Homo sapiens: one gene and its partner. The protein of the gene in region 2 purifies or fractionates together with the protein of the main gene of each other region. This does not show direct contact. Each region holds a gene or a part of one and is shown on either strand. Other genes may lie near its edges.

Region 1 (3,500 bases), on a different chromosome or scaffold from region 2:
CACGGGATCACGACCCAGACAGACTCACGGTGACAGCACGGGATCACGACCCAGACACAGACTCACGGTGACAGCACGGGATCACGACCCAGACACAGACTCACGGTGACAGCACGGGATCACGACCCAGACAGACTCACGGTGACAGCACGGGATCACGACCCAGACAGACTCACGGTGACAGCACGGGATCACGACCCAGACACAGACTCACGGTGACAGCACGGGATCACGACCCAGACACAGACTCACGGTGACAGCACGGGATCACGACCCAGACACAGACTCACGGTGACAGCACGGGATCACGACCCAGACAGACTCACGGTGACAGCACGGGATCACGACCCAGACACAGACTCACGGTGACAGCACGGGATCACGACCCAGACACAGACTCACGGTGACAGCACGGGATCACGACCCAGACACAGACTCACGGTGACAGCACGGGATCACGACCCAGACACAGACTCACGGTGACAGCACGGGATCACGACCCAGACACAGACTCACGGTGACAGCACGGGATCACGACCCAGACACAGACTCACGGTGACAGCACGGGATCACGACCCAGACAGACTCACGGTGACAGCACGGGATCACGACCCAGACACAGACTCACGGTGACAGCACGGGATCACGACCCAGACACAGACTCACGGTGACAGCACGGGATCACGACCCAGACACAGACTCACGGTGACAGCACGGGATCACGACCCAGACACAGACTCACGGTGACAGCACGGGATCACGACCCAGACACAGACTCACGGTGACAGCACGGGATCACGACCCAGACACAGACTCACGGTGACAGCACGGGATCACGACCCAGACAGACTCACGGTGACAGCACGGGATCACGACCCAGACACAGACTCACGGTGACAGCACGGGATCACGACCCAGACACAGACTCACGGTGACAGCACGGGATCACGACCCAGACACAGACTCACGGTGACAGCACGGGATCACGACCCAGACACAGACTCACGGTGACAGCACGGGATCACCACCCAGACAGACTCACGGTGACAGCACGGGATCACGACCCAGACACAGACTCACGGTGACAGCACGGGATCACGACCCAGACACAGACTCACGGTGACAGCACGGGATCACGACCCAGACACAGACTCACGGTGACAGCACGGGATCACGACCCAGACACAGACTCACGGTGACAGCACGGGATCACGACCCAGACACAGACTCACGGTGACAGCATGGGATCACGACCCAGACACAGACTCACGGTGACAGCACGGGATCACGACCCAGAGGGAAAATAAATGGGCGTGGGTCCATAGTGACAAAATCAGTGACCACAAACAAGTAAGTAACAAGATCTTCCTCACAGAGGAATTCCACATAATGTCCGCAGACACTCCCTTCAGGAGGCGGGGGCTGGACCCAGTGAGCGGCTTCCAGAGGACAGAGCGGGCGGGAAAGCAGGGACCTGTCAGAGGGCACACCTGGCAGGCAGACCTTGGCCGGGTGATCAGAAAGCCGTGCGGACGTCAGGACCCTGATACGGTGTGACGGGAAGGGCCCCGCACCTCTGTGGGCGTCTTCCCAAAACCCATCACCCAGTCTAATTGCGAGGAAACACCAGACGGACCCAACGTGAGGGACGCTCTACAGACGCCATGACAGGCCTGCTTGACACTGTCAAGGTCGGAATCCTGCACAGGAAAGTCTGGGAGACTCACAGACCAGGGAGGGAGGGAGGAGACGCCAGGACAAAACCGGGTCCCAGAACGGAACAGGCACGGGTGGAAAAGCCATAGAGTCTGCAGTTTCAGTTAATAGTTTTATTTTTAATAAAAAAATTTTAAAAAGTAAAGGTTTCTCGAAGACTCTGCACCACTCAGTGCCCGGCATGAAGCGCTGTGAGCAGCCTCCCTCCAAGGCAGTGGGAGCAGGGCCACAGGCAGAGCACCGCAGGGCCCTGGGCGACGAAAGGGTCAGGGCTGGTGACCTCTAAAGGGGCTGCGACGGCAGGTGGGTGGGGGCAGCTCCAAGTGAGGAGGAAGAGGGTGGACACAGGCGGGCACGGGATGGACACAGGGTAAACAAAGGGCAGACACAGGGCGGGACACAGACTGGACACAAGGCTGGACACAGGGTGGACATGAGGTGGGACACAGAGGGGACTCGGGGTGGGTCGCAGGGCGGGAAACAGGGCTGCAGCAGAAGGCTCCCCACACCCCTACTGCCTCCACCACTGGGTGGAAGGGACCTGAGCTGTGAGCGCTGACCTCCTAGCAACATAGAGGACACCTCGCGGTAGGCCCTCAGCCCCGGCGGCCACACGTGCAGGGACCGCACCAGCAGCTTCCACAGCTCAGGCCAGTGTGTGTGCATATGGGTATGACATGCCCATGTGTCCCTGTGTGTATGTGTCTGTACACATGTGCACATGTATACATGTGCACCTGTGCATGGATGCCCTGTGTCCATGTGTGCACGGGTGTATGCATGTCTCTGTACACGTGTGCACATGTACACATGTATGTGTGCGTGTGCAGGGATGCATGTGTGTATGTCCTGGCATGTATGCAGGTGGGAGAAACACAGGTTGTGACTGTTCAGCCACTGCACACTCCAGGGCCCAGCCTTCATTGGTGCTAGGCTGGGGCCCCTTTCCCACAGGGACCTAATTGGCGCTAGCTGAAGGGTGGATGTGCTCCACCCCTCACCACAACGCAAACTCCAGGACCACAGAGGAAAACAAGATGTGGCCTCACCAAAGCAATAGCCTAAATCAGTAATTCTAAGGCAAGAAGCATAGGATGCTTCCTGCTTATCAGGAAAAAGGAAGACAGACTGAATTGAGATTTCAGAGAGAAAAAAACTATTTCAACCTCTACTCATGTTATAAAAATAGCTACATAAAAAGATGCAGTAAAAATCTTGAAACATCACAGGCTCTCAAAACAAAACTAACCAAGCAGTCAAGCTTCGGAAGGCCCCGTCACTACCCCACACGGGAGGCAGCAGAGCCATGGCGGCCACCCGCCTCTCACAGGGACCCAGAGCCTGACCTGGGAGCTGCAACGAGGAAATACCGAGGAAATACCGTGTCGCCCGAGCAGCCAACAGCAGGCATGGCCGATAAATACTTTGTTTCAGAATCAGAAAGAAATAGCTGGGCGTGGCAGCCTGTGCCCGTAGCCCCAGCTACTCGGGAGGCTGAGGCAGGAGAATCTCTTGAAATCGGAAGGCGGAGGTTGTAGTGAGAGGAGATTGCACCACTGCACTGCAGCCTGGGCGAAAAAGTGAAACTCTGTCTCAAAAAAAAAAAAAAAAAAAGAATCAGAAAAAAAAAATCAGCTTTCTCTTTTCTCCTTTCAGATAAATTGTTGTAAGATTAAAACAGTCATCCCAGAAATGCCGTTCTCTGTTGATGGTTCTTACTGGCCGTGGTTAAATTCTGGGCCTCAGCACAGTGACCTCAAGTATTTTTTCTTTAAGGGATGTGC
Region 2 (4,291 bases):
CCAGAGGAAACAATGACTGTCATAGGATATGACTCTGAGATCAATGTAGCATTACCATCACTAAATACTAGAGAGATGCAAGACTTCTGTTTTTAGAGGCTTCTGGATTTTTTTTTCCACATGTTTTGAATAAAAGAAATTTCAACAGCTTTTTACTTATGAGACTGTGGAGACAATTATTATTGCAGCCATTATGCAAAATAAATTGCTTTGCTTTTCATATTCATTCCATTTGTTCAATCATCCATCAGAGATGTTTTGAAGGCCTGCTGTGTATCAAGCACTGGGCTAGGTGCTAGGATGTGACAACAAGGCCCTGAGCATTCCAGCCTTCTCTGAGTTTATAATATACAAATGATCAGTCTTAAGTGAGAGAAGTTCTAAAAAGAACCTTCCTTAGAGGGAACAAGGGAACCAGCTTAACCATGGCTGGGGAAGATTGCCTGAGGAGGGGATGAAAGGCTGATATTTGAAAGATTAGGTAGGAATTTGCCATGGTGTCCATCCATGGATCCTTCCTTGTGCCTTCTGTCTTTATCTTAACAATTCCCTTGCCAAACTTCCTTGAACTTCCCTTGTACACGATAATTCTGTTGCTTTTCTCTATACCTATAAACTTTTCCAGGGGATTGAATTATTTTTGACCACTTTTGACCTACGAATGTGACAATTTCAACAACTCAGTGTATAGCTGTGACACTTTCAGGCTAAAAGGTTCTGGTCTCTTAAAATTATGGTATCACATTGTACTCTTTTTAACATTTATTGTAAGCAATCCATCATTAACTGAAAACATCCCAGTTATTTTCCATCAAACAATTCTCTTTCAGATTATTTTTTCTAAACCATTTTCTTCCAAGTTGAGTCATATTTTTTCTGCTTATTCATCATTTCATCTGATAGTGGGGTCAGTGATTCTGCCTCTATGCTTTCGGCTGTACCTCCAATTCCTTTTCTTAGCTTGTTTATTCTTTCCTCCATGACATTGTTGAGAAATAAATCAGTTCTATGGACTATCAAAATTAATCAAATGCTTTTCCAGAAGGTATGAGCTCTCTTGAAGGATTGCTTCTATTTCACTGTTTTTGAGGGTAAGGCAAGGTTATACAAAAATGGCAAGAGCTGGTAGGCTGCTGGTATTTGTTTTTAAGACTGCTGTTATCAAATCTGTGAAAACAATTTAATTTCACACATGCCCACAGACAGGCACAGAGAATTGTGAACTTAAAAAGAGACAGAAAGACTAGAACCTTTACTATATAGAACCTTTACTATAATGAAATTAAAGTGGTTTTGAGCTTTACATAATCACATATCTACCCCCTTTCTCATCATCCCACAACTACTATGGAAAACTTTACTCTGTCAACCTTAGTTTATCTATGATTAAAATTAGAAACACATCCTTGGGCCTTTCTTTGCATGCCATTTTTCCACGGTTTCAAAAAGATAAGCTTCGCCTATAAAAGGAGTTTTTGTTGCTATCTGGTTGCGTGTGGAACCTGACGGAACTGCCACGGTGAGTCGGGAACATGTTTTCCAGGCCTAATTGATCAGAATGTATCCATTTTCCCCCAGAGGTCTAAATGAACTAAAACTTGCCGATCTTTTAAAAACTTAGCCAGACTCAATCATGTTTTTAATTTCGTGTAGATGCTGCCACTTTGGACTCTTTCACTGCTGCTGGGAGCAGTAGCAGGTAAGAAAACAAATAAATGTTGAGCTGGGAGAGATTCACTTTTCAACACGGTCAGGAGGGCTAGGGCAGCTGAATTCAGGCCGCAGTAATAACATGAAGATTTACTTCAAGGAGTAAAGCACAGGAGACGCATAAGAGCACAGGTACATGGAGTAGGGTTGTCAGAAAACATCTAAGATGCCCAGTTAAATTTGAATTTCAGATAAACAGCAAATATTTCCCACAAACAACAAATATGTGACATATCTATACTAAAACATTATCATTTATCTGAAATTCAAATTTACTTGTATTTTGATTTGCTAAATCTAGCAACCCTGACATCAAGTCAAGTTAAGAGTTTGAACCTTGGCTCCACCACCACCTACAACTGTATTACCCTGAGCAAAATTCTTAACTCTTCTGTGCTTCAGAATCTTTGTCTGCAAAATGGGGAGAGTCGGATTCCCCATCTCCTAGGATTATTGTGAGAATTAGGTCAGATTAGTAAACCATCCAACCCAGCACCTGACACATGGTAAGATGTTGAGAAACGCAGCCCCCACAACAGCTGCTACTCTTACTCCTACCATTAATCTAGATTTATCCTCCTTAGAGAAGAGAACCCTTCTTTGGGTTATTTTTTTATGGAGTGACATTCAAGCCTAGAGTTGTGTTAAACCATGGATTTTTGGTTTGGTTGTTTGTGAACAGCTTCTTCATCACAGGAATGAAGATGTCCTGCAGTACAGCAAGGATGGGGATATACGGTTTTGGCCTTTCCATAAAATTTTAGCTCTCCTTTCAAAGCCCACAGCTAAACAGTGGCTACAAGAAGTTAAGGCTTAGGGACACAGGGCTGTCCCTTTCTTGAGCACCTATAGCCCAAGGAAGATATCTGAGTTTAGAGGCTAAAAGGAGTCCCACGTTGGGATTGGGCAGAGACACAAGGGGAGTGAAGTGATCCATGTGGTAGAATTGAGGAACAAGAACAACAGCCTGTCTGGAATAGTTGTGTTGTCTTTTGAAGCTGTTTTGTGAGTGTGTGGCTAGGAGGGTGTTGAGAGTAGCAGAGGAGGAAAGTCTACCACACAGTGTAATTGAACTCATATATTGGCAGACAGATCATTAAAAAGAGCATGTTTGTAAAACTAATATCCTTCTGGGGGATTGCAGGAAAAGAAGTTTGCTACGAAAGACTCGGCTGCTTCAGTGATGACTCCCCATGGTCAGGAATTACGGAAAGACCCCTCCATATATTGCCTTGGTCTCCAAAAGATGTCAACACCCGCTTCCTCCTATATACTAATGAGAACCCAAACAACTTTCAAGTAAGAACTATCACTGTGTTTAGAACTAAGTTCTTTGGGAGGCCGAGGCGGGCGGTTCACGAGGTCAGGAGATCGAGACCATGCTGGCTAACATGGTGAAACCCCATCTCTACTAAAAATACAAACAATTAGCCAGGCGTGGTGGCAGGCGCCTGTAGTCCCAGCTACTCGGGAAACTGAAGCAGGAGGATGGCGTGAACCCGGGAGGCAGAGCTTGCAGTAAGCCGAGATCGCGCCACTGCACTCCAGCCTGGGCGACACAGTGAGACTCCATCTCAAAAAAAAAAAAAAAAAAAAAAAGAAGAAGAACCAAGTTCCACCTGTTTTCTGTAATAAGGATACTGAATATTCAAGTTCTTAAGAGAAAAAAATCAGCCGTGAAATTTGCATCTTTGTAGATATTCAGGGCACTGAGCTTAGGTATTACTTAATGTAAATTGTTTATAAAAGATTCATTAACTTCATATTATTCTTGTCCTTCCTCTATAACATTTAATAAATATTGTAAATGTAGGGCTATATTTATACATATAAAGTATATAAACATTCCCAATATTATATATTTATGTAATCTCCTATTATATATATGTATCTCTACATAGATAAAGACATATAAAAATACACACACGCACACACACACACACAAAGCCTTCCATTGTATGAAGAAAAGATCATTACCACCAAGATTATAACAGACATATTATCCCAAGTTGAACAATGGCAAACATGTTGTGATGACTGGGAAATGGCAACATGATGATGATAGTGAATACTGTGGTTGCTATGGAGGAATCATTATTCACAAGGATCCTGAATCCTAGCAGTCTTCTACTTACTGCCCCTCTCCATGTACAAATGGTTCTATTGGCTACTATAGGAAACTGACATGAAACACTTTTCTGTCTAAACAGGAAGTTGCCGCAGATTCATCAAGCATCAGTGGCTCCAATTTCAAAACAAATAGAAAAACTCGCTTTATTATTCATGGATTCATAGACAAGGGAGAAGAAAACTGGCTGGCCAATGTGTGCAAGGTGAGATGTGGTCATCTCTCAAGGAAAGATCGTTTCCAAAGTGGTAATTAACAAACGGTAAGGCACTGGCCCCGACCAATGAGGACAGTGCTTGGAGGTCTTGGAGGATATTCAGACCCCTGCTGGGCCTGGAGTTCCTAGGGGAGGTCAAGGAGGTGGTGGTGGGAAGAGGGGGTTTAGGATGGTCAGAGCAGTGAGGCTGGCAAGCACTTGGTGGATCTAGGCAGTGGTTATTTAATAACTGATAT

Evidence for each region. Proteins that work in one complex are often made in the same cells at the same time.
Region 1: the proteins of PNLIP (region 2) and LMF1 purify together in Homo sapiens (affinity purification with western blotting, with the first as the bait; one study listed by BioGRID). This does not show direct contact.

The regions. Positions count from the first base shown.
Region 1 is NC_000016.10:960,985-964,484, forward strand, and holds part of LMF1 (lipase maturation factor 1), read right to left. Parts: intron 1-3,500. UniProt on the Homo sapiens protein: Involved in the maturation of specific proteins in the endoplasmic reticulum. Required for maturation and transport of active lipoprotein lipase (LPL) through the secretory pathway. Each LMF1 molecule chaperones 50 or more molecules of LPL.
Region 2 is NC_000010.11:116,544,440-116,548,730, forward strand, and holds the start of PNLIP (pancreatic triacylglycerol lipase precursor), read left to right. Parts: upstream 1-1,491; 5' UTR 1,492-1,519; intron 1,520-1,653; coding exon 1,654-1,699; intron 1,700-2,854; coding exon 2,855-3,009; intron 3,010-3,920; coding exon 3,921-4,043; intron 4,044-4,291. UniProt on the Homo sapiens protein: Plays an important role in fat metabolism.